5 separate regions of the Homo sapiens genome follow, and regions 1, 2, 3 and 4 are each linked to region 5. The links come from fine-mapping of genetic effects on gene expression. A gene starts in region 5. Each other region holds a variant in brackets. All regions are shown on one strand. Distances are from middle to middle. Region 1 overlaps ZFYVE9 (zinc finger FYVE-type containing 9). Region 2 overlaps ZFYVE9 (zinc finger FYVE-type containing 9). Region 3 has its middle 17 kb from the start of TUT4. Region 4 has its middle 6.1 kb from the start of GPX7. Region 5 holds the start of CC2D1B (coiled-coil and C2 domain containing 1B).

What was found.
Region 1: its variant is fine-mapped to the expression of CC2D1B in blood mononuclear cells (TOPMed, PIP above 0.99).
Region 2: its variant is fine-mapped to the expression of CC2D1B in prefrontal cortex (BrainSeq, PIP 0.92).
Region 3: its variant is fine-mapped to the expression of CC2D1B in subcutaneous fat (GTEx, PIP 0.93).
Region 4: its variant is fine-mapped to the expression of CC2D1B in spleen (GTEx, PIP above 0.99).

What each region holds. Positions count from the first base shown.
Region 1 is chr1:52,150,401-52,155,532 of GRCh38, forward strand. All of the region lies in intron 1 of ZFYVE9 (zinc finger FYVE-type containing 9), which reads left to right. All of the region lies in intron 4 of LOC107984956 (collagen alpha-2(I) chain-like), which reads left to right. It also overlaps the pseudogene RN7SL788P. Among named protein-coding and RNA genes, the nearest start is that of ZFYVE9, 11 kb to the left of the region's middle. The variant C/T (reference allele first, on the strand shown) is at 3,001.
Region 2 is chr1:52,253,366-52,258,497 of GRCh38, forward strand. The region is part of intron 4 of ZFYVE9 (zinc finger FYVE-type containing 9); the gene reads left to right. It also overlaps the pseudogene ANAPC10P1. Among named protein-coding and RNA genes, the nearest start is that of CC2D1B, 110 kb to the right of the region's middle. The variant C/T (reference allele first, on the strand shown) is at 2,624.
Region 3 is chr1:52,567,232-52,572,363 of GRCh38, forward strand. No RefSeq gene overlaps it. Among named protein-coding and RNA genes, the nearest start is that of TUT4, 17 kb to the left of the region's middle. RefSeq lists an enhancer at 4,066-4,566. The variant T/C (reference allele first, on the strand shown) is at 3,161.
Region 4 is chr1:52,593,732-52,598,863 of GRCh38, forward strand. No RefSeq gene overlaps it. Among named protein-coding and RNA genes, the nearest start is that of GPX7, 6.1 kb to the right of the region's middle. The variant C/T (reference allele first, on the strand shown) is at 2,087.
Region 5 is chr1:52,363,454-52,368,453 of GRCh38, forward strand. CC2D1B (coiled-coil and C2 domain containing 1B) reads right to left here and starts at 2,752. Exons shown (of 25, transcript NM_001330585.2): 1 at 2,616-2,752; 2 at 1,099-1,181. The coding sequence starts at 1,167. RefSeq lists silencers at 2,352-2,461, 2,502-3,131 and an enhancer at 4,944-4,993.

The sequences.
Region 1 (5,132 bases), 210 kb before region 5:
ATAGTGAGACCTAATCTCTAAATAGATAGATAGATAGATGATAGATGATAGCTAGATAGATAGCTAGATAGATGAGATATATAGGGCCAGGCACGGTGGCTCATGCCTGTAATCCCAACGCTTTGGGAGGCCGAGGTGGATGGATCGCTTGAGGTCAGGAATTCAAGATCAGCCTGGCCAACATTGTGAAACCCTGTCTCTACTAAAAATACAAAAATTGGCTGGGCGTGGCGTTGGGCCCCTGTAATCTCAGTTACTCAGGAGGCTGAGGCAGGAGAATCGCTTGAACCTGGGAACCCGGAGGGGAGGTGCAGTGAGCCGAGATCACGCCACTGCACGCCAGCCTGGGCAACAGGGGAACATACTGTCTTAAAAAAAAAAAAAAAGAAGAAAAGATAGAACAAGCAATGTCAAAATTTTGTAAAAACACCCTGTCAGGATTTATACAAACTTTAATCTCCATTTTTCATTTTCAGTTGAGCAGGAGAAACAGTCCCTAAAAGGTAATTAAAATAAAACACTGCCAGTTTGAAACTTGAACTTCACAGTACATCATGTAGGCCTTTTTGTGATTCTGGTGATAATTGTCTTTTTTTTTTTTTTTTTAGTAGTAGTAGCCGAGGTAAATTATTTTTGAAGTTATTGTGAGGTCACTCATGGAAATTTCTGCTCAGTGTTTAAAAAGCAAGGTTGAGATTCTTTAACCTGGCATACAGCCTTCATGATTTGGTTCCAAGCTGATCATTCCTCCCTCCTGTTTTTGCATCCTGTTCTTCCAAGATTCCAGGTTTATGGAGTTTTCCTTGATTCTTTTACCTTGTATTACTTTTTGTGGAATATAAAAGCTTTCCCTGTAGTGTGCCATCTTTCTGGTAAGTGTTTCACATATGTTATTTGTAACTCTTACTAAGGATATTATAAGGTCATTATATTATTATGCATTTTACAGCTGAGGGAACTGAGGCTTGGAGAGTTTTATTGATTTTCCTAAGCTTAAGCCCACATTGATGATTCAAACTTATATATCAAGCTCATATATCTCTGACTAGAAAGTCCACACTCTTTTTTCATCCTGTGAATCTTGTCCTGTGTCTATGTGTGTGTGTATGTGTGTTTTTTCTTTTTTTTTTTTTGAGATGGGGTCTCGCTCTGTCATCCAGGCTGGAGTGCAGTGGTGTGGTCTCGGCTCACTGCAACCTCTGCCTCCCGGGTTCAAGCAATTCTCCTGCCTCAGCCTCCCGAGTAGCTGGGACTACAGGCACCCACCACTACACCTGGCTAATTTTTTGTATTTTTAGTAGAGACAAGGTTTCACCATGTTGGTCAGGCTGGTCTGGAACTCCTGACCTCAAGTGATCCACCCGCCTCGGCCTCCCAAAGTGCTGGGATTAGAGACATGAGCCACCTCTCTGAGCCCATCCAGGATTTCTAAAGTATGTTCCCTAGGAGCAAGGAGATGTTCTTTAGTCAAATAAGTTTGGGTTTTCAGCTTACTATATATCCCTTAGGTAGAAGTTTGCAAATGCACGTTAGTATTCTAAAGACTGAGGAGTGGAAGAAACTTGTTTAACTTTGTTCAGCTATGTATTACCCCAATTTTTTTTTTGAGATGGAGTTTTGCTCTTGTTACCCAGGCTGGAGTGCAGTGGCACCATCTTGGTTAACTGCAACCTCCGCCTTCCAGGTTCAAATAATTCTCCTGCCTCAGCCTCCTGATTAGCTGGGATTACAGGCATGCACCACCATGTCTGGCTAATTTTTGTATTTTTAGTAGAGATGGGATTTCACCATGTTGGCCAGGCTGATCTCGAACTCCTGACCTCAGATGATCCACCTGCCTCAGCCTCCTAAAGTACTGGGATTACAGGCATGAGCCAGTGTGCCTGGCTATATTACCCAAACTTATTTGGTTGTGGAACCCCTTTTTTCCACGTAGGCCTTAGTAATTAATACCCTTTACTGATGTAGGTCAACTTTTACCTGTTTTTTAAAGTCTCACCCTCACCGTATCCGAGACTTTGAACTCTCAGATGATAGGCCCTGATTACTTCCTGAAGGTGCTCATTCTGCACGTTATTAGAATATTAGCAGTATTATTTCTTTTTATATTCAGCCAAAAATCTAGCTTTTTTTCTAGTATATATCCTTTTGCTCTTTTACTCTTTAAAATTACACAGAATAAATAATCACTCTTAATATCTAAAGATGACAAGACAGTATCCTGTCTCTCCCAGCATAGTGATTAAATTACAGGCTCTAGAGTCAAACTGTCTGGGTTCAAATTTAATTCTCCTTTCACTTTGTGATCTTGGGCAAGTTAATAACTTCTTTGTGCTTCAGTTTTCTCACCTGTAAAATGGGACTAACAATAATACATCAGTGGGTTAAATAAACAGATACATGTAAAGAGCTAAGTACATAGTGTATTGGTTCAGGTCCGCTGGGAAGCAGACGTTGAAATGGATGTAGTAGCACAAGAGGTTTTATGGGATGGAATGCCTATGAAAGGAAATGGGGAGAAAGCAGAATTGCCTAGGGAGAGCCTCAGTCTGTGATGCAGATCTGAAAAAATCTCAGTCAACCTAACAGGGAACTTCAGAGCACATATTGCCTGTTAGAGGAGGCCTGCATGGGCAGAAATGGCCAGATTTTAGTACACCCACCATGTTTAGTCACTGGCTAGAGCTGCCCAAGGAGAGCATGGTCATGACTGGGAAGCTGAGATGAATTCTGAACATGCTGCAGCTGGAGGCTGTTAGCTAACCAAACTCCTTGGACCTGAATGGCAATTCTTTTTTGAAGGAAGATCCAAGTGATTGCTACAGTCCATTCCTCATGATGCACAGATCCATATCTTCACAGTTTCTGAGAGCAGCTCCTCCAAGGGAGGAAATGTAGAAAGAGATTAGTGAGACAGGCCTCAGGCTCATCACTGTAGCTGGTCTCAGAGCCACAAAGTTCTAGAGCCATCTCCACTATGTAGTCTAAATTGCCCTTGCC[C/T]TCAGCTATCATTTCTGCTGGTGTTGGTTGTTTACCTAGTGGTTTGACCCAAACCCTCATTTCTGAGGGGTCTGAGACTGGAGTGGTTGCATTTGCCCATTCATAGTCACTACTGGGCAGGGAGTATTAAGTGGTATCCTAGGGAATCATCTGAGTCCCACACATATTCTTTCTTGTTCCCTTTGTGTAACGGCAGCCCTACTTCCTCCTGAGGATGAGGGTTAATTAATCTTGCCAAGATGGGCATTCCTCTTACTGCTTTCTAGTCCTTGGACACAAGGAATACTCAGTATTCAGGCTGCAGCTGTAAATTGTAGTTCACTGTGACCTTTCATGTGTCTCTTGGCAAAAGTGTGCCCGCTTTGGGTGCCAGGACTTCTAACTCCGTAGAGCCCCACATTGCAGAGATGGGAAGCACAAAGTAGATCATTGGGAATGATGGCGAGTAGGGGCTATTTCCCTTTCCACTTCTTGGTTCTCAGACCCATGTATTCTTCTTACTGGGAACCTAGCTCTAAATCAGTGCATGTACTGCATACAAGAGGATAGCACACCATTTTTGTCTCTGAGCTAGTACATTAGCTGTGCCTGCAGCAGGCCATTCCAATACTCTCTAAGACTGGTCCTTTTGTATGGAGCTGTTATGGATATAACTACTGGAGCTTATGGTTATGGGCCTACTGCCACAAATCTTTCACTGTGAAGTGATTCCCTTGGCTGGATTCCATGTCTGTTGATTAAGTGCTGTATAAGTCTATATTTAGTGGTACTGGCTAGGTCTCTATGGACAGGAAAGGCAAACCCATACCTGGAATAAATGTCTAATCCTGTGAAGATCAATCACTGGCCCATCCAAGATGGAAGAGGCCCAGTGTAGTCAGCTTACCACTTAATAGTCTGTTGGTCTGCCTGAGGCATAATGCTATATGGGGGCTTGGTGTTGGTCTTTGTTGCTCATAGGTTGGATGTTCAGAGTTGGCCTTGGTAAATGGGAGTCCATGTCTCCTTCTCTGCTTCCATCTCTATTTCTGCCACAGTGACCTCTCCATTTATGTCCCCATCTTGCCACTTCTGGGTGACCGATGTCAGCTAGTTGAGTCATTTTGTCTCCTTGGCTGTTCATTGGCTCTTCTGTATTGGATACTTTCTGGTGGGCATTAACACATGAAACAAAGATTTTCATACTTTCCACCCACTCCCATATATTCATTCATTTCCCTCCACCCATACCCCTTGCCTTTGTCCTTCTCCTTAAAGGCCTCTAACCAGTTGGCCAGTCTACTTGCCATTGCCCGTGAGTCTATATATTCTCACCCCAGGCCACTTTTCTTTCTGCATAAAATTCATAACCAGGTGCACGACTCAAAGCTCTGTCTGTTAAGAAGATTTTCCCTTTTCATTGTCAAGGTCACCCCTAAGTGTGGCTATAATGAACTCCGTTGTTTTTTTCAGCTTGCATTCACATACTGAGCTGACCTACTTATAAGCAAAACTTTGGCTTTTTTCTCCTTCTTAAGTTGGTCTTATAGGATACCCCAAATAGCTATAGATGTGAGCTGAGGAAATGGTGCTAGTATGGTGAGTGCCAGGGAAGTCTTGGCTGCCTGCTTATAGCAGTCTTCTTGTGCCTTTTGGTTCTGTTTCATTTTGATCCTTGATGTGCCATTCCTATCTTATAATGGATTGCTGCTATGCTCACCTGGCTTTATGACCTGGCGAGTCCTAGTGAATGCAGATCATTATGGAAAGTCTGGACACATGGTGCCCAGTGATGAAGCATTGTATCTCTTAATAGGACACAGTTGCACACCAGGAGCTGTTTTTCTTTTTTTTCTTTTTTTTTTTTTTTTTTTGAGACGGAGTCTCGCTGTCGCCCAGGCTGGAGTGCAGTGGCGCGATTTCGGCTCACTGCAGGCTCCGCCCCCCGGGGTTCATGCCATTCTCCTGCCTCAGCCTCCCGAGTAGCTGGGACTACAGGCGCCCACCACCTCGCCCAGCTAATTTTTTGTATTTTTAGTAGAGACGGGGTTTCACTGTGTTAGCCAGGATGGTCTCGATCTCCTGACCTCGTGGTCCACCCGCCTCGGCCTCCCAAAGTGCTGGGATTACAGGCGTGAGCCACCACGCCCGGC
Region 2 (5,132 bases), 110 kb before region 5:
GAAATATTTTAATTTACTAGATACTAAGAGGTAGAAATTAAAATTTTTAAAATTTTATGCCTATATAACAAAAAATAGAAAATGTTGATAGTATGATAGATAGTGAAATTGACACTGGCATATTTACACATTTAAAAAGCCACACGTGGGTCGCTGGGGAACCCAGGCTGTCCTAGGAAGCCGAGTGGGAGTGGCACAGAGCTGCTGGAGATCCTGAGAACCTGAGTTTTGGCAAGCAGCCAGAATACTTAAAAAATGACCACACCAAACAAGGCACCTCCTGGTACTGACCCTGAGCAGTTGGAAAAGACTGGAACAGTACGGGAAATTGGGTCACAAGCTGTTTGGTCACTCTCATCTTGCAAACCAGGATTTGGAGTGGATCAGTTACGAGATGACAATCTAGAAACTTATTGGCAATCAGATGGCTCCCAGCCTCATTTAGTGAACATCCAATTCAGAAGAAAAACAACAGTTAAGACATTATATATTTATGCAGACTACAAATCTGATGAAAGCTATACTCCAAGCAAGATTTCAGCCAAAGTAGGAAATAATTTTCACAACCTTCAAGAAATTCGGCAACTTGAATTGGTGGAACCAAGTGGCTGGATTCATATTCCCTTAACTGATAATCATAGGAAGCCAACTTGGACGTTAATGATACAGATTGCTGTTCTAGCCAGTCATCAAAATGGAAAAGACACCCACCCATATGAGACAAATTAAAATATACACACTGGTAGAAGAGAGCGCCATTGGTAAATTTCCTAGATGTACAACTATAGATTTCATGATGTATTGTTCAATAAGGTGACTTTAAAATGATATGGAAGTCATTAAACGTATCTTTGTTTTATCCTGTCTTTAAATAGTATATCAGTTACCTTTATTGAAAAAAACATCAGTTATTTGCAACTTTATATATATTTAAAAATATTTTATTGTAATTTTGATAAATTTGGGTCATATTATCTTTAACATGTAATAAAGCTCACATATTTTACATTACTAAAAAAAAAAAAAAAAAGCCATATGTGTGGCTGGGCGTGGTGGCTCACACCTGTAAATCCTAGCACTCTGGGAGGCCGAGGCAGGCAGATCGCTTGAGCCCAGGAGTTCAAGAGCAGTGTGGGCAACATGGCAAGACCTCATCTCTGCCAAACAAAAGGGGACGTATGTTCCAATTTTTTGAGCTAATGATTCCTTTTTTGAGTAAATAATTCTTAAAACAAGTGCAGTAAACAAAAAGATGTGTATTTTAGTGTTACTAAATAGCAAATACATTTAAAGTAATTTGTGTCCAAAATTGGATAATGGGCCAGGTGTGGTGGCTCATTCCTGTAATCCCAGCCCTTTGGGAGGCCAAGGTGAGAGGATCACTTGAGCTCAGGAGTTCGAGACCAGCCCAGGTAACGCAGTGAGACCTCATCTCTACTAAAAATTAAAAAATGGCGGGATGTGGTGGTACATGCCTGTAGTCCTAGCTACTTGGGAGGCTGAGGTGGAAGGATTCCTTGAGCTTAGGAGTTCGAGACCAGCCTGGGCAACATAATATCTCTGCTAAAAATTAAAAAATAGCTGGATATGGTAGGGCATGTCTGTAGTCCCAGCTACTTGGGAGGCTGAGTTGGGAGGATCACTTGAACCCAGGAGGTCGAGGCTGCAGTGAGCCATGATTGTGCCAGTACACTTCAGCCTGGGTGATAAACGAGACCATGTCTCAAAAAAAAAAAAAAAAGGTTAATGGTAAGTTAAGTACAATACATATATTTGCTTCAGCCATTAAAAATTATTACAAGGCAGTGTAGAAAATGCTTATGATGACATATGAATAGAACAGAATGCAAGCTTATGCTTTGTTTACAATTAAATTATTCTTGGGCATAAAAACAGATATGTCTGAAGGAAACATATTTTTAAAAAGTAATTTTAGAGCCAGGCACGGTGGGTCATGCCTGTAATCCCAGCACTATGGGAGGCTGAGGCGGGCGGATCACCAGAGGTCGGGAGTTCAAGACCAGCCTGACCGACCTATGGAGAAACCCTGACTCTACTAAAAATACAAAATTAGCCGGGCATGGTGGCACATGCCTGTAGTCCCGGCTACTCAGGGGGCTGAGGCAGGAGAATCGCTTGAACCTGGGAGGCGGCGGTTGCGGTGAGCCGAGATCGCACCATTGCACTCCAGCCTGGGCAACAAGAGCAAAACCATCTCAAAAAAAAAAAAAAAAAAGTAATTTTAGGCTGGATGCAGTGGCTCATGCCTGTAATCCCAGCACTTTGGGAGGCCGAGGCAGGTGAATCACCTGAGGTCAGGAGTTCAAGACTAGCTTGGGCAACGTGGCAAAACTCCATCTTTATTAAAAATACTAAAATTAGCTGGGTATTGCGGCGCGTACCTGTAGTCTCAGTTACTTGGGAGGTCGCAGTGAGCCGAGATTGCATCACTGCACTCTAGTCTGGGTAACAGAGAGAGACTCTGACTCAAAAAAAATTTTTTTTAATTCATTGAGTTTGAGCTATTTTGCTTTTTTCTTTTCTTTTCTTTTCTTTTCTTTTCTTTTCTTTTCTTTTCTTTTCTTTTCTTTTCTTTTCTTTTCTTTCTTTCTTTCTTTCCTTC[C/T]TTCCTTCCTTCCTTCCTTCCTTCTTTCCTTTCTTTCTTTCTGTCTTTCTTTCTTTCTCTCTCTCTCTCTCTCTCTTTCTTTCTTTTCTTTCTTTCAGATGGAGTCTCGCTCTGTCTTCCAGGCTGGAGTGCAATGGCGCGATCTCAGCTCACTGCAGTCTCCACCTCCTGGGTTCAAGTGATTCTCCTGCCTCAGCCTCCCAAGTAGCTGAGATAACAGGCGTGTGCCACCACCACGCCTAGCTAATTTTTGTATTTTTAGTAGAGACGGGGTTTCACCATGTTGGTCAGGCTGGTCTTGAACTCCTGACCTTGTGATCTGTCCACATCAGCCTCCCAAAGTGCTGGGATTACAGGCATGAGCCACCATGCCCGGCTCTTTTTTTTTTCTTTTTCTTTTTTGAGACAGTTTTGCTCTTGTCGCTCAGGCTGGAGTGCAGTGGCACAACCTCAGCTCACTGCAACCTCTGCTTCCCTTCCCAGGTTTAAGCAATTTTCCTTGCCTCAGCCTCTCAAGTAGCTGGGATTACAGGCATGTGCCACCACGCTCAGCAGATTTGTATATTTTTAGTAGAGATGGGGTTTCACCATGTTGGCTGGGCTGGTACAGCCTCAGTTGGATATAATATTGAAAGTCTGAATTAGAGATCTCTTTTAACCCTTTCTGTAATGGACACTTAAAATGACTCTGATAATTATTATTGTTTTCTATTAATAACAGTGAAGTTTAAACAGGTGTTTAGACAGAGGCAAGGGTCTGGATTTGTTTGAACTGCTTTAGATCTTATGATACTGATTTTTGCTATGTGCTAATAAGTGGAGGGATAAAGTACTCCTGCATTTGACAATTTTTATAAGTTGTTACTTTCACTGGTCTTTGTGAACAGCTGGACACTGGTCAGTTCTATGCACTCTCCTCTCCTGTTTTTATTATTCTCACATCACAGTTATTTTTGTCATAATTATAGGGCTTTTTGAAGACCTGGGACATCATTTTTTGCATTTTCTAATTTGGAAAGAAATAAGTGAGCATTTGATGATTTGAATTTTCAAGAATTGCAAAGGAATAAGTGTTATTCACACTGTAAGAGGGTATAAATAGGCACAAAGTGGTACTTTGAATATAAAGCATGTTCACAGATTTAGCAATAGGATTTGTTATGTGGAAAGCCTGTAGTGGGAAATTTTAAAAGGAAAGGAAAGGGAAATAAGAAAGGTACCAACATACATTTAGAACCTATTATATGCTACATTTTATACATATAATTTCATTTAATCTTCATAAAAGCCATATGAAGGAAATACTGTATTAGCATTTCTATTTTACATGTGAGAAAAACTAAGACCTAGAGAGTTTAAATTATTCCCATAAGGTCATCTGACTAGAGAATAATCAAGTTGAAATAGGAACACAGAAGTGCCACATTTAAAAAAATTACATATAAACACACAAATGGAACCTTTTAACCAGTACTTAGCTGGAACATCGTATAGAATATATATTATAAATTACCTTACTTTGTCTCTTTATGCTTAGGCAGGTCATACGGATCCTGCCATATGATGTCAGCTGTAACCATTAGGCATAAAAATCTTGAGGTCATTCTTATAAACAGATTAAAATGTGTTGTTGCAAAAGTTGAATGGCTCTAGATTATTTTCTGAATTTGGATATGAATCATATAGTCCTTCCCCAAAAAGTTTACATTAATGTTTGTTTCTCCATTCATACATTTATGTATTTATGTATTTATTTATTTTTTGAGACGGGGTTTCGCTCTTGTCTCCCAGGCTGGAATGCGGTGGCGCGATCTCTGCTCACTGCAACCTCCACCTCTTGGGTTCTCCTGCCTCAGCCTCCTGAGTAGCTGGGATTATAGGCGCCTGCCACCACTCCTGGCTAATTTTTGTATTTTTAGTAGAGATAGGGTTTCACCATATTTCACCAGGCTGGTCTCAAACTCCTGACCTCAGGTGATCCACCTGCCTTGGCCTCCCAAAGTGCTGGGATTACACACATGAGCCACTGCACCTAGTCCCAGTCATACATTTATTTATGCAATAACTTTACTTTTCAAGGAAGCAATAAGCAAATATTTACTGAGTACTATGTTTCAGACACAATATTGAAGATACCAGTATTAAAAATAATTTAGCTCATTATTCCATGGAGTTTACATTCTAGTGTGGGGAAATGGAGAATAAGTTCAATCAGTGCAGTAGATTGTGTTGTGATAAAGATATATGGCATATGGTAAGATATTTCAGCAGTATAATTTAAGTTCAGGTGTGCAAATATGTAATTTTCTTAATTTTTAGAACTGACTTTACTTTTTTACTCTAAGCCTGTAGCTTAGAGAACTGGGGAAGGTACTTAGATGGTATATGGAATATAGTGGGGTATTTTTAGTTGTCAGAATGACTGAGGTTGCTACTGGCATTTAGCAACCTGTGCATACCAAGACTGCTAAACATCTTGCTATGCCCAGGACAGTACTGTCCTATGAAG
Region 3 (5,132 bases), 200 kb after region 5:
CAGTCTTTTTTAAATGCCTTTTAACATGGTTGAGATCATATTTTGTCTATAATTTTTTACTTAATATTTTGCTGCATTTTCCCATATCTTAAGAATGTTTTATAAATACAGTTTTAGCATCTGCAAAATACTGCATTAAGAGAAGGTGCCAGAGTTTGCTTAACCAGTCCCTTATTGTTGGGCATTTAAGTTACTTCTAATTTTCTTCTATTATAAATAATGCTTTTTGCATAAATGCATAAAGCACTATAAGGTTATTTCCTCAGAGAAAATTCTCAGATGTGGGATTTCTATATCAAGTAGTGTGAAAATTTAAAAGGTTCCTGATATGCACTGCCAAATTGCTTTTTAAGAGGTTTGTACTAAATTCCACTTACCCTATTATGTGGGAGAGAAAACCAACTAAATGTCCTTAAGCTTTAAAAACGATAAGTTTCTCAGAATCTCTGGGCAAGGGCTATAGCATCCACACATGTATTTTCCTTTGAAAACTAAATATTGCCTGGTAGCATAAAGTCTCAGATTTTGTGGGGAGGGGTTCACACACTTTACTTCCCTTGACATCCCCAAGAACCCAAGAAACATACCTTTTAGTCAGCTAAGTACCTCCACCTTGCAAGCCAACAATATTTTAAAGAGAAATTTTCTTAAGGTTATACAACATCAACAAACTGTCTTGCTGGGTGTCTCTAAAGTTCCCCAGAGAATAAGATCACTCACAGCTTTGGAGGGAGGACTTCTAAGGGATCCCTGAAGGGATCGCCAGTTCTAGCAGATTTAGAGCTGCAGCTCAAAATTTTTCTTGTTTGTAGAGTCTTTGGTCTAGTTCCAGAGATCCCAGCCTTAGATCTCTCCCAACATTCCTCTGGGGCCCTCCAGACATCCACAATCTCAAGAGAAATTGCAAGCTTCTCACCACCTCTCTCGCCCATACATGCTCCGGCTCCCCCCACTTCATTCGCTCTCTCTCCTCTTCTTGTTCTCCCTAGCCTCTCTTCGTATCCTCTCCTCCCCCAACTGTCTCTCTCCTCTTGCTAAGTGTGCCCTCCTGAGTCTATCTTGTAAATTTCTTTCTAAGCTTTACTTTTAATATTCTTCCTTTCTCTCTCTCCCCTCTCTCTTGGCTGAGTGTTTGTGTAACTTTTTTCTAATCCCCCACCCCGACCCCGCCGGATTGTCTCAGACTTTTAGTCCTTTCCTCCTCTCTCAAGGGGACACAGCTGACCTTTCCTAGGAGTAGCCTCTTTTTTTGTCCCCAAACTTCTCACCCCTGGGCTCTTCTATTCTCTTCAAATGGCACACATGCCATCCCTGAATTTGCAGGAGTTTCTTTCTGCCTGTTTCACGCCAAATATAGCTTTTTTTTTTTCACACCATGTTACCAAGGAATAATCTTAGTAGACCACTGTTAATACTTCTAGACCCCACCATGACTTCCTTCTGGTATTTATCCTCATCATACACTCCACGAAAGGATCACTTATATTATGCCCATATTTTCCTCATTCTATCCAAATCAGGATACATAAGAGCAGAAGTCTAAGCCTACTTATAATTACAATAAGATAGGATATTTGAAATCTGGGCTGTCCTCGGAAATCTGGGACATAATGTTGCTATAAATGCCACCTATCCAGAATCCAGCTCTCAAGCAGTTTCATAAGCAAGCACTCTGAACATCCTCAGCATTGTCAGGAAGTTTGTATATTACACTCAGACTAAAAAAGGATTTCCTCTCATTTTGTCCATTCTGGGAATCAGAATTTTGACTGCACATCAGGTGGGGTCTGGCCATCCAGGTTGCTATCTAGAAATCACCACATAGGGGGATTCTTCACAAAAAGTTTTTGTGAGCTTTTTATGAAAAATCTTTCACTGAGGCCAGGCGCAGTGGCTCACACCTGTAATCCCAGCACTTTGGGAGGCCAAGGGGCGCAGATCATCTGAGGTCAAGAGTTCAAGACCAGCCTGGACAACATGGTGAAACCCCATCTCTACTAAAAATAGAAAAATTACACGGGTGTGGTGGCAGGCACCTGTAATCCCAGCTACTTGGGAGGCTGAGGCAGGAGAATCGCTTGAACCCAGGAGGCAGAGGTTGCAGTGAGCTGAGATCGCGCCATGGCACTCCAGCCTGGGTGACAGAGTGAGACTACATCTCAAAAAAAAAAAAAAGAAAATCTTTCACTGAGAAAGGTTGAACCCAAGTCTGAAATGAAAGCATACAGTTTACTACCCATTGATTGATTTATGCAGAAATCTGTATAAAGATCTCCAAAGGTGGCTTAGTAGGTTCTGTTTTAAACTTTCAGTTCCTCCTCCCTAGAAAGTTAGGGAAACCTCTTAACCAATACGAGTTCCTCTGATCTGAGCTGAACTTTCCTTCTTCCACTATCCAAATTCTGCTGATTCTTTTCTGTCCAGGATATTCATCTAAGTCACCATGGTTGTATATGCTCAAGGTTCACTTTAAGTACAGTCTTAATCTTGTTTCTGAGGAAGTTTGCTTTCTCCAGTAGGTCTGCAAAACTTCCGCTTCTTATTTCCTATTGCCCCTGAAATGACATTTCTCCTTGTGAATTAATATGGGCCTGCCTACCTCTAGGTAATCCTGTTTTTGTCATGTATCTGTATTGCATTTTCTGTCCACTTTTGTCCTCTCTTACAGTGAAGGGAGCATTTTAAACTTTTTTGTTTCCATAGAACAGTAACTTGCTGGTTGGAAGACCCGAGTTTAACATGGACCCTCGGAGAAACATGACCCCCGGAGAAACATGGAGAGCCTGAGACATCCTGTGTAATTCAATAAATATCCACCCACTCCCACCCCCACCTTTGCTGGCTACAGCAGCTGGGGAAGTCAGAGGGAAGGAGGTTTTTTATGTTTTGTTTTGTTTTGTTTTGTTTTGGAGACGGAGTTTTACTCTTGTCGCCCAGGCTGGAGTGCAATGGCATGATCTCAGCTCACTGCAACCTCAGCCTCCTGGGTTCAAGCAATTCTCCTGTTTCAGCCTCCTGAGTATCTGGGATTACAGGCACACACCAAATCGCCTGGCTAATTTTTTGCATTTTTAATAGAAACAGAGTTCCACCATGTTAGCCAGGCTGGTCTCGAACTCCTGACCTCAGGTGATCTGCCCGCCTCGGCCTCCCAAAGTGC[T/C]GGGATTACAGGCGTGAGCCACCGCGCCTGGCCGGAAGGAGTTATTTTTGAGCATTTTATGCTGCTCAGTCTTGTGCAGACCGCACATACTGTAGAGTTCATGCACTTTTCTCCCAGTAGTGACTTTCAGCTCTTGCTTTACATGTAGTTCCAACAAGCTTGGATATTTAGTTTCCATGTCTATAGCAGATCAAAATTAACAATTAATGGGTGGGGGTTGGGAGGCCAGAATAAGATAGTTAAAAGCACAGATTCTGGAGTCAAACTGAGTCTTTGAATCCTGTGCTGCTGCTTCCTAACTGTATGACTTTGAAGTATTTAACCTTTTAGCTTCAATTTCCTCATCTGTAAAATGGGAATAATAATAATAGCTATTTTGCACAGTTGGTCATAAAGATTAAATAAGTTAATATATATGAGGTGCCTGCATTTGTAAGTACTCTGTGAGTATAGAGAGGGCGCATTGGTAACAGTACTGATGAGATGTAGCAAAGAAGCAAACCAACCAAAAAAAGCGGAGAAAACAGAGCAATCTAGGATCCAACTGTGTAAGACAGAGGTTCCCAAACTTTCTCAGCTCAAAGGCACCTTTAGTGTCTCAGTAATTTTTTCATGGTGACTTCTCCATGCCCACTCCTCCTACAAAAAAACCAAAGTAATAATTCTCTTTATTAAGTAGTTAAGTCCAAACAACTTAATCAGTATTTACATCCTAATAATTTACTAACCATTTGAAATAATAATTACATAAGTTTTTATTCATTTCTTTCTTTTTTTTTTTTTTTTGAGATGGAGTCTTGCCCTGTCACCCAGACTGGGGTGCAGTGGCACCATCTCAGCTCACTGCAACCTCCGCCTCCGGGTTCAAGTGATTCTCTTGCCTCAGCCTCCTGAGTAGCTGGGATTACAGGCGTGTGCCACCACACCCAGCTAATTTTTGCATTTTTAGTAGAGATGGGGTTTTGTCATTTGGCCAGGCCGGTGTCGAACTCCTGACCTCAGGTGATCCACCCGCCTCGGCCTCCCAAAGTGCTGGGATTACAGCCACCATGCCCAGCATTTTTTTTTTTTTTTTTTTGAGATGGAGTCTTGCCCTGTCACCCAGGCTGTAGCGCAGTGGTGTAGTCTCGGCTCACTGCAACCTCCGCCTTTTTGTAGAGATGGAGTTTGCCATGTTGGCCAGGCTGGTCTCAAACTCCTGACCTCAAGTGATCTACCCACCTCGACCTCCCAAAGTGAGGCACTACACACTACAGGGTCTGAAAGCAGGGAACATAAGTCCGATTCATTCTGACTTCCTAGAACTAAGTCAAAGGGAAAACTCCAACTTACCACACCCAAGTAACAAAAGGACCAGAGGCTACTCCCTTTGCATCCCCCACTTTTCTGCCTGGCAGATGAAAAACTGAAAGTACCTGTGATTTGTCCTCTTCTGCAACCAATCAGGCTGGTCTCAGGCCAAGTTTTCATTTGCATAGGAGTATAAGTTTGTAACTTCACTTCAGCCTCTGATTGGTCACCTTCTGCAACCAATCAGATGTTTGCATGGGTTTAACTTTGTAACTTCACTTCCATCTCTGATTGGTTGCAGAAAGCAACCAATCAGATTGGTTTAACTTTGTAACGTCACTTCAGCCTCTGATTGGTTGCCTTCTGCAACCAATCAGATTAATCACAGGCCACTTCTTCATTTACATAGGGTGTACCTCAAGTAACCAATGGGAAGCCTCTAGAGGGTATTTAAATCCCAGAAAATTGGGTAACCAGTTTCCTGAACCCATATGCTTGGCCTGCTCCCACACTATGGAGTGTACTTTCGTTTTCAGTAAATCTCTGCTTTTCTTGCTTCATTCTTTCCTTGCTTTATTTGTGTGTTTTGTCCAATTTTTTCAAGAAGCCAAGAATCTGGGCACCTTCCACTGGTAACAGAATTGCTGGGATTACAGGCATGAGCCACTGTGCCCAGCCAGTT
Region 4 (5,132 bases), 230 kb after region 5:
ACTTTTTCTATTCAATTTTTTTTCCATGCTAGTCTGAGCTAGTAAGTTGATTCTGTAACTTACTAATGGGTTGCAACTCTCAGTTTGAAAAACAATGCCCTAGATGAGATACATACCACAATCATAACAAAATTACACAAAAATTAAAGTCGTAATACTCTTTAATGTGAACTTTCATGTCCTGAGCATCTGCCCTGTACAAGGTCCCATGCTGCAGGTTAGTGACAGGTTTGAATCAAACACGGTCCTGCCCTCAAAGAGCTACAAATTCCTCAAGGTAACATACAAGTAGATAGGCAATGACATCACAACAGTGATTGTCAATCCTGACTGCACCTTAAAATCAGCTGGGGTATTTTTAAAATACATAGTGCTGGGACCCTATCCCCAGACTTCCTGATTCAGTTGGTCTAGGGTGGAGCCTGGACATTAGTGTTTTTTAAAAGCTCCCCAGGTGATTCTAAGGTGCAGCCAGTATTGTGGATCATTGCAATACAGCATGATAAGTGCTACATTACATGAAAGCACAAATTGGGCTCCATGGCTGATGCCTGTAATCTAATCTCAGTTATTTAGGAGGCCGAGATAGGCCAGGAGTTCAAGACCAGCCTGGACAACATAGTGAGACCCCCACCCCCAACCTCTGAAAATATAGAAAAAAAATTAGCTGGGTGTGGTAGCCCATTCCTGTAGTTCCAGCTACTCGGGAAGCTGTAGCAGGAAGATTGCTTGAGCCCAGGAGTTGATGGCAGCAGTGAGCTATGATCACACTACTGCACTACAGCCTGGGTGACAGAGTGAAACGCCGTCTCTAAAAAATAAAAAAACAAGAAAAGGAAAGCATAGAATGGGGGCAACTACCCACCTAAATAAAAGTGTTGAGAAAAGCCTCAGAGAAAACCTGTTTTCTGAGTTGGGTTTGTGTGCTGCACACCTTCTGTCTGACTCTTTGGATCCACTGTCCACCCCCATTGTCTTCTTGGTACACTGAACCTGTACAGCTGACATTGATGGGCTCCTTTGCTCCCTGGCTTCCACTCAGGTACCGGCCAATATCCCCGAAGGAGACTGGTGAGAAAGAGGAGATGAATTAACTCCCTGGCTCCTTCCCTGTAAGTTTACCTTGGACTGGCTGTGATTCTCCTTTGAAATTAACAGCCTCAGGGAGGCTGAGGCACAAAAATCACTTGAACCCAGGAGGCGGAGTTGCAGTGAGCTGAGCTCGCGCCACTGCACTCCAGCCTGGGTGACGAAGACTCTGTCTCAAAAAAACAAACAAACAAACAAGGGAACTGCCCCTTTCAAGATGGCTTGGTGTATAGGTGTATAGGACTCTTTTTCCAGCTTCCATAATCTCTCCTCCCTCTTCCCATCCATTCAGGTCAAGAGATGTTAACAGTTCAGATAGGTTCCTGAACGATCCCTGTCTTCTCCTACACCCCACCCACACAATGGAAATTAGTCCCTGTGTAAATGAGCCTTCCTCAAATTCCCCTAATCTGAGTATCTCATCTGTTTCCTATTGAGGCCCCGATTAATAAAACCTGGAAGCCCTATAGGAACTTGCTGTAAGCACAAGGACGGGAAAACAATACAGGCAGGGGGAGCAGATGAGGAATGGCAAAGAGGCAAGGAAATGTGATTTTGTCTGTTTAATTCCCTTTATTGGTTGAAGGATAAATTGCTAAATCCCATGTTCAGGTCTCAGTCCTAATCTTCCTAGATTTATCAACAGCATTTTACCAGTTAATCCCTCTCTTCATTCTGGAACAAATCTGTCACTTAGCTTCCATGACATCGCACTCTTTTAGGTTTTTGGTCCTTCCTGTGGCTACTCTTTTTCAGTGTCTTTTTCTGGCTCCCTCATGTCTTCATCTCCAGCTGAATGCTGGAGTCCCAAGGGCTGTCCTTGGTTCTCTTTTCTCTCTATTCCAACTCACCATCATCATCCAGTACCATGGTTTTAAATATTCTGTGTGCTGTCCACTCCCAAATTTATTTATTTATTTATTTATTTTTGAGACAGAGTCTCACTCTGTCACCCAGGCTGGAGTGCAATAGCACGATCTCAGCTCACTGCAACCTC[C/T]GCCTCTCAGGCTCAAGTGATTCTTCTGCCTCAGCCTCTTGAGTAGCTGGGATTACAGGTGCCTGCCACCACGCCCTGCTAATTTTTGTATTTTTTAGTAGAGACAGTGTTTCGCCATGTTGGCCAGGCTGGTCTCAAACTCCTGACCTCAGATGATCCACCTGCCTCAGCCTCCCAAAGTGCTGGGATTACAGGTGTGAGCCACCGTGCCCGGCCCACTCCCAAATTTATATCTTGCCTTAGATCTCTTCCAATTCCTGACTCATATATCCAACCGTATCAGAGATAGGAATGGTGTCTGGAACCAGCTCCTAGAGTCAATTGTTATGTTTCCAGGACTTTTGCCAGCCTCTTGCTAACCACAGCCATTCCTAAAAATTAAATTACATTTTTAAAATTAAAGAAATTATGTTAAAAAGAAAGGTAATATTAAAAACTTATCACTTTCTAATTGTTTTACTCTATTTTATGATTTTCTGTGCTCTCAAGTTTATTGATGTCTATTCTATCTGTATTGTGGAAATACTGCATAATGGTATGCTATTCTCACATCTCTTCCTAACTCCACATTCAGTAAAATCATGTTGGAAGCTCAAAATCAACCAGGGTGGGAGTATTACACCACACATTAGCAAATGTGGCTCTCAGGGGTTGATTTATTGTTTTGTTTATTGCCTAGACTTAAGAAAGTGATGGAAAAAATGTTAATAATACAGATTAAATTGAGAGTATATTATGTCTATAGCCATTAGTCTGTGAATAACACAAAAATTAGTGTAAATATTCTTCTGGTATTGGAAACTACTCTCAGATGCCACAAAGAAAGCCTTCGTGTTATTGGCTTTATCCTTGTTCTGGCATATATCTCTACTGTTTCACTTTCATCTTACTATTAATGGAAATAAAAATATCAACCAACATTAATCTTGGAAGTATACATGTTCAGCAATTGCAACCATTAGTTGGCTATAGATATAAGAGTCTGGCCAACATCAATTAAAACGTTCTGTGGGAATAAAGTGGCCATATGGAATTTACAATAAGAAGTACTATATATTTTATTATTTGTGAATTGTGTGCTATGCATCATTTATATCAGTAAACCTTATAATAAACTTATTATACACACACACACACACACACACACACACACACGCACCTTTTTCTCCTGGAAAGCCAATTTGTAAATGTTTACTACTGCTAATAGGCAACTCAAACTTAACATGTCCAAAACTGAGCTCTTGATTTTCCATCCTGAACCAGTTCCCCCCACAAGCATCCTCATCCCAATTAATGGCAACTCCATCTTTCCAATTGCTCTGGCCAAAAACCTTAAAGTCATCTGTGACTCTTGTCTTTCTCTCATTCCCTATATTCCACCTGTCAGGAAATACTTTTGCCTCTACTTTCTTTCTTTATTTTTATTTATTTATTTATTTATTTATTTTTGAGACAGGGTCTCACTCTGTTGCCCAGGCTGGAGTGCAGTGGCATGATCTTGGCTCACTGCAACCTCCGCCACCCAGGTTCAAGCGATTCTCCTGCCTCAGCCTCTCGAGTAGCTGGGATTACAGGCATGTGCCACCATGACCAGAATCTTTTTGTATGTTTAGTAGAGATAGGGTTTCGCCATGTTGGCCAGGGTGGTCTCAAACTCCTGACCTCAGGTGATCCGCCCACCTCGGTCTCCCAAAGTGCTGGGATTACAAGCGTGAGCCACTGCGCCCTACCTTTATTTTTATTTTTAGTGACAGGGTCTCACTCTGTCTCCCAGGATGGAGTGCAGTGAAGTAATCATGCTCACTGCAGCCTCAAATTCCTAGGCTCAAGTGACTCTCCTGCCTCAGCCTCCCAAGTAGCTAGGACTGCAGGTGCACACTACCGTGCCAGGCTACTTTTTTTTTTTTTTTTTGTAGAAACAGGGTCTCACTATATTGCCTAGGCTGGTCTTGAACTCCTAGCATCAAGAGATTCTTGTTGGGATTACAGGCATGAGCCACCACACCCAGCCTCTGCTTTCAAAATATATTCAGAATCTACTTCTCACCACCTCCACTGCCCACATGTCCCCTTATGAGGATTACTGCAATAGCCTCCTGACTACTCTTCTCATTTCAGTACTGCAGTCAGAATGATTCTGGTAAAACATAAATTAGAAATGTCCATTCCCTGATTAAAACCCTTAAGTGGCCTCCCATCCCATTCAGAATCAAAGCCACACTCTTCACAATGGCTTGTAAGATGCTACAGTAGCTGTGTACCCATCCCTTACCTCTCTGATGTCATCTTCTGTTACTCTTCCCCTTGCTCACTCTGCTCCAGCCACACTAGACTCTTTGCTGTTCAGCAAACACATCGTGCCTGCTCCTGCCTCCAGGCCCTTGTACTTGCTGCTTCCTCTACCGAGACTGCTCTTCTACTTTCCTCTCTGACATTCTTTAGGTCTTTGCCCAAATACCATTTTCTCAGTGAGGCTTCCTGATCATTCAAATTAAAGTTACAATCCCTCCTTACTCTATACCATACTACTCTACCCTCTCCCCCGCTTAATGCCATGTAAAGTACTACATGTTGGCCGGTTGCGGTGGCTCACGTCTGTAATCCCAGCAGTTTGGGAGGCCGAGGCAGAAGGATCACTTGAGGCCAGGAGTTTGAGACCAGCCTAGCCAATATGATGAAACCCCGTCTCTACTAAAAATACCAAAAGAATTTAGCTGTGCGTGGTGGTGGCCGCCTGTAATCCCAGGTACTCAGAAGGCGGAGGCACAGAATCACTTGAACCCGGGAGGCAGAGGTTGCAGTGAGCTGAGATTGTGCCACTGCACTCCAGCCTGAGCGACAGAGTGAGATGCCGTCTCAAAAAAAAAAAAGTAAAGTACTGTAGGTTTTGTATGACTAGTTTTAGTTTTTATTCTTTCTCTCTCCCAACAGGCAAGGAAGAAGAAAGAAGCTCCCCCTGTACAGAGACAGAGGGAGGGGGTGATCCAAAGCCGAGAGAGGAAACCGCGAGTACAGCAGAAACCAGCCAGTTACATGAGGAGGCTGG
Region 5 (5,000 bases):
ATGAAATTTACCATCTTAACCACTGTTAAGGGTGAGTTCAATGGCATAAGGACATTCACAATATCCTGCTACCATCGCCATCATCCATCCACAGAACTGTTTTCATGTTGTGAAACAAACTTTCTACCCATTAAACATTAACCCCCCTTCCTCCCCTCCTTCCAGCCTCTGGTAAGCACCATTCTTCTGTTTCCATGAATATGACTACTCTAGGTAGAGGTACATCCTTTTTTTTTTTTTTTTCTGAGACAGAGTCTGGCTCTGTCGCCCAGGCTAGAGTGCAGTGGCACTATCTTGGCTCACTGCAACCTCTGCCTCCCGGGTCTAAGCGATTCTCCTGCCTCAGCCTCCCAAGAAGCTGGGAATACAGGCACATGCCACCACGCCCAGCTAATTTTTGTATTTTTAGTAGAGATGGGGTTTCACTATGTTGGCCAGGCTGGTCTCAAACTCCTGACCTCAGGTGATCCACCCACCTCGGCCTCCCAAAGTGCTGGGATTACAGGCGTGATCCACGGCACCCAGCTTACATTCTGTTTTTATCCCAATGTTCAGATGAAACTGAGACAGTCTTGTGAGACAATCAGAATTTAAAACAAGCTCTTTGCGACTTGAGTCTATGCCCTTTACCCCACCTCCTTTCTTACCTGCCTTTTTAAAGACAGTAAAAATGGACTAAGAAGTCTCAAGATGTAGGCCCAGAAGAAATAAAGGAAGAAAATTGGAGAGGAGACCCCCCTGTTCTTCCACTTGGGGCACAGCCATCTGTCCCTAGGCAGTGAAGTCCTCCCACTGACTACAGCCCTCATGCCCTGGCATCCCTGGCTAACAAGCAAAGTTGTGACCCTATCTAAGGAACCTTTGAGAGCACTGAGGTCCCATCAGAACATCCTAAACTTTGGTGATTCCTGAACCCTCTCCCCACTTGTATGTGGAAGAGACTAGTAGGAGGGTGTCTAAGGGCTCTGCCACCTCCAGGAGGCACTGCTCCAAGTCTCTGAACTAATGGGGGAACTACATGTGATCCAGTTTGCCTAAGTTGTCTAGGGACCCCCATCCCCAAACCGACCCAGTAGCCTAGAAGGCTAAGTTCCATACCTGCTTGGCAGCGGCCACCCCTTGGCCTCTGGCCTGAGGGCCCTTCCGAGGTCTTGGCCCTGGCATCATGGCAGCCTAGATACCTATGGAAGAGTTACAGAGATTCAGGCTGGAGTAGCCCATAAGCCACGCCCCCAACAGTGCTACCCGTGGTAAGGTGTGGATAGTAAACTCCCAAAGAAGGCAATGCTGAACACCAAAGTATGGGTTACCTTTAATTAAAGCACTGAAGCAGCACAGGCCATGGGAGGGATGGGGATCACCTGTTAATGGGTTTACTGAGGAATGTTCTGAACGGACTCAAATTTAAAAAGCACATTCAGGGAAGTACTCTAGGTTCAGGGTGGGTGGAAGGCTGGGTAGAATTCAGAAAGGCTCTAAAGCTGTGCTTATGGAAGCCACAGCTGGCTATTTAATTTTAAATTTCAATGAATTAAAATGAAATAAAGCTAAAAATCCAGTCCATCAGCCACAACAGACACATTCCAAGTGCTTAACAGCCATATGTGGTGAGGGGCTATGACCAGACAGCACACACACAGAACATTTTCATCATCCAAGGACATGTCATCAAAGTTCCATCTCACAGCTGAGCTCTGGAGAAAGCTGGCTCAGCATTCTGATTCCCATAAAGATCTCACAGTTATTCACAGGACCTCCTGTGTCAGACCTTGCGCTGGGCACTGGGAGCGCAGAAATGAACCTAAGACGGTCTCAGCCTTCAATGACCATTTACAGGGTGGAGGTGGACTACACGGGGTTGCCCCAGGGGCCATGGGTGCCCTGAGGTGACCCCTTCTTCAGCCCTGGGAGAAAAGGCTCCTCCTTCGAGGCGGTGACGCCTGAGCTGAGTCACGCAAAGAAGTTGGGGGAAAGAGGGAAATAGGATTCCAAGACGAGGGAACACTTGACGGCTCTGAAGTGGGGAGCAGCTTGGCCTGTACAATGGAACCTGAGGCCTGGTATGACTGGGGCATAAGCGGTGAGGCCTGAATGCACAAGCCGAGGTGGAAATGTGAGCAAGCGGCAGAATATGAAAACCTCTAAGCCGAAAAGCGTTTGGGCATTATTCTGAGGGCGCTGGGAAAGAAGTGGCGGGATCGTATCGGTGTTTCAGAAACCCCATTCTGGCACCAAAGGGGAGGTGCACAGAAGGTAGGGGGAAAAGGCAGGAAGCCGGCGCATCTCGCCACAGCGCTGGCGGGGAGACCAGCTGACGGGCGTGGAGGCGGCGGGGAGCGGGCGGAGGAGCTGGCGGGCGCTCCGGGGGACTCTGAGTGTCAGATTTCGGGAGTGACTCCGGCTCAGGTGAAAGCGAGGCCAGACACTCCAAGGCTGCGGCCCCGATGACACAGCCAGGCCTCACGGAAGGTGGGCAACGGAGTCCGTAGGGGGAGGCGACACGGGACCCCCACTCCCGCGCTGCGGGACGCGCCGCCCTGCCCCGCCCGCGCCGCCTCCATCTACCCCCGCGGTCCCCAGAACTCCCCACGCCGAGGGGCGGGGACGCGGCATACCTCGCGGTGAATCCGAGCCAAACCCCGGCCTTGTCTCACCCGGCACCGCCCTGGGCTCCCGCGGGCCCTGGGCCGCAGCGGTAGCGACAGGAAGCGCCAGCAGGGGAGGTGGCTCGCGCGCAACACGTGACCCCACTGGCCGGCGGCCGGCAGTGCGCATGTGCACGGCTACGCGGGCGGGGGGCTCCAACAGGTGACACCGGGGCGGGGTTCGCAGCGCGCAGGCGCGTTCGGGTAGGTAGCGCAGGACAGGAACTCTGGGCGGTTCCGCCGGGGCGTCCACCGGCCGGCTCCAATGAGGTCGCTGCGCCCAGCCCTCGCCCACTTGCAGCCTCTCCACCGAACCTCCTCCCTCACTCAGCCCGAGGCGCTGGGCGCTCGCTCGCTCGCTGGACCTACCCCGCCTCCAGCCCTCGCCCCGCCCCACCGAGCAAGAGGGCGGGGCCTACCCAAGCTCCGCCCTGGAAGAGAGACAGGGGCGGGGCTCACCTGCTTGTCCATGTCCTTTAAGCCTGGGGAAATGGAAATGGGGCCCACCATATGTTTCTTAATAATTCAGCACCTGAAAGTATCCTTTTCCGGTCCGTTGAAAACTTCAGACAGGCAGAGCTCGCTGCACATCTTAAATACTTTACAGAGTCTAACACTAAGTTCTCACTCGCCTACCCTGCTGTGCAATCAAATGGCATGGAGGATATTAAGGAGAGAAACGGAGTATACCCGTTTTCTGCCAAGCTTGTGTCAGTCACTTTTCATAATGGAGCTTATACCAGTTCTCAATCCTGCAAGATGGACATCATCTCTAGAAGAAACGGAGGCTCAGAGAGAATTATTTGCCCAGGGAAATACAAAACCAACCTCTTTAGCATCAGTAAATATGCTCTAGTCTAGTTTTCTAAGGAAAGCACGTTTCTCCCTGCGGCTTGCAGAGTCCAGTTAACAAGAGATTGAGCTCAGGAGTCCGAGACCAGCCTGGGCAACATGGCGAAACCCTGTCTCTACAAAAAATTACAAATATTAGCCGGGTGTGGTGGTGCGTGCCTGTAGTCCTACCTACTGAGAGGCCGAGGCAGGAGAATCGCTGTGGCCCCGGAGGTCCAAGCTGCAATGAGCTGTCAACTGCACTCCAACCCGGGTGACAAGGTGAGACCCTGTCTCAAACTAAAACAAACAAAAAAACCGAGAGCGGAGTAATGGGGAAGTGGCCAGATTCCCATCTAAAGTAACCACTTCGATTTTGGGGGGAAAGAGAACGGCTTAAAAGGAAAATTTGATATGGGAAGCATGCAAGAATTGTACAGAGTACAACGTCTGTGTGTCTTGTTCTGGTGGCTATCTTGGGTCCCAGCCTACCTGGAGCGTGGGCTGGTCTCATCTCCACAATGGCCCCGCTGTTGACTAGCCACCTTGAAGTAATCTTTGGAATTTTGCAGCTGTGTCTCCAGGCTTGGTTTGTCTGTCTCAAGATTAGCCCTTGGAACTTCTCAGAAGGCAGATAATTAAATACTAGCATACAGTAAGATAAATGTGAAGGGAGTATATACAGTGAGAAAGGGAGGGATATGGGGTCTATTTTACAGCTAAGGGAAAAGGCTTTTGCAGTTTGCTTCAAGGTTGTATCTTGAAACCCAAGAGAAAGGAAAAAAAGTTTTAAAATGTATTTTAAAGTTAAACTGCTGGATTAGTTTCTTCTGTCTAAAACATTGCCATCTCCTCTCCTGCCTATGCCTTGAACTTTTAAATTATGTTTTCTAGTTAGCGATCTCCCAGTTTACTTGGACAAAGGGCTTTTCCATCTCCTGATTGCTTACTTTTTTTCTTTTTTTTTTTTTTGAGACAGGATCTCATTCTGTCACCCAGGCTAGAGTGCAGTGGTGCGATCTCCACTCACTGCAACCTGCACCTCCCAGGCTCAAGCAATCCTCTCACCTCAGCCTCTTGAGTAGCTGGGACCACAGGCACGTGCCACCATGCCCAGCATTTTTTTTTTTTTTTTTGTAGAAACATGTTTTTGCTATGTGCCCAGGCTGATCTCAAACTCCTGAGCTCAGGGGATCAACCCACATCAGCCTCCCAAAGTGCTGGGATTACAGGCGTGAGCCACCATGCCCTGCCCATTACCATATTTAAATTGAGATTTCACATCCATATTTCTCATTCCTTTTAAAATTATTTAAAAATTTTTATAATGAAACATTTAAGATATAAACAAAGATACACAATATTTAACATTTACTAGAATGCAAGCTCCAGAAGGAGAAATTTTTTTATTGCTTCTCCAAGTGTCTCGTGTCTACAGCAGTGCATGGTACATAGTAGGCACTCAATAGTTCCTTGTTGTGTGAATTAACTACATGGACATCTATTACCAGTTTAAGGGAAAAA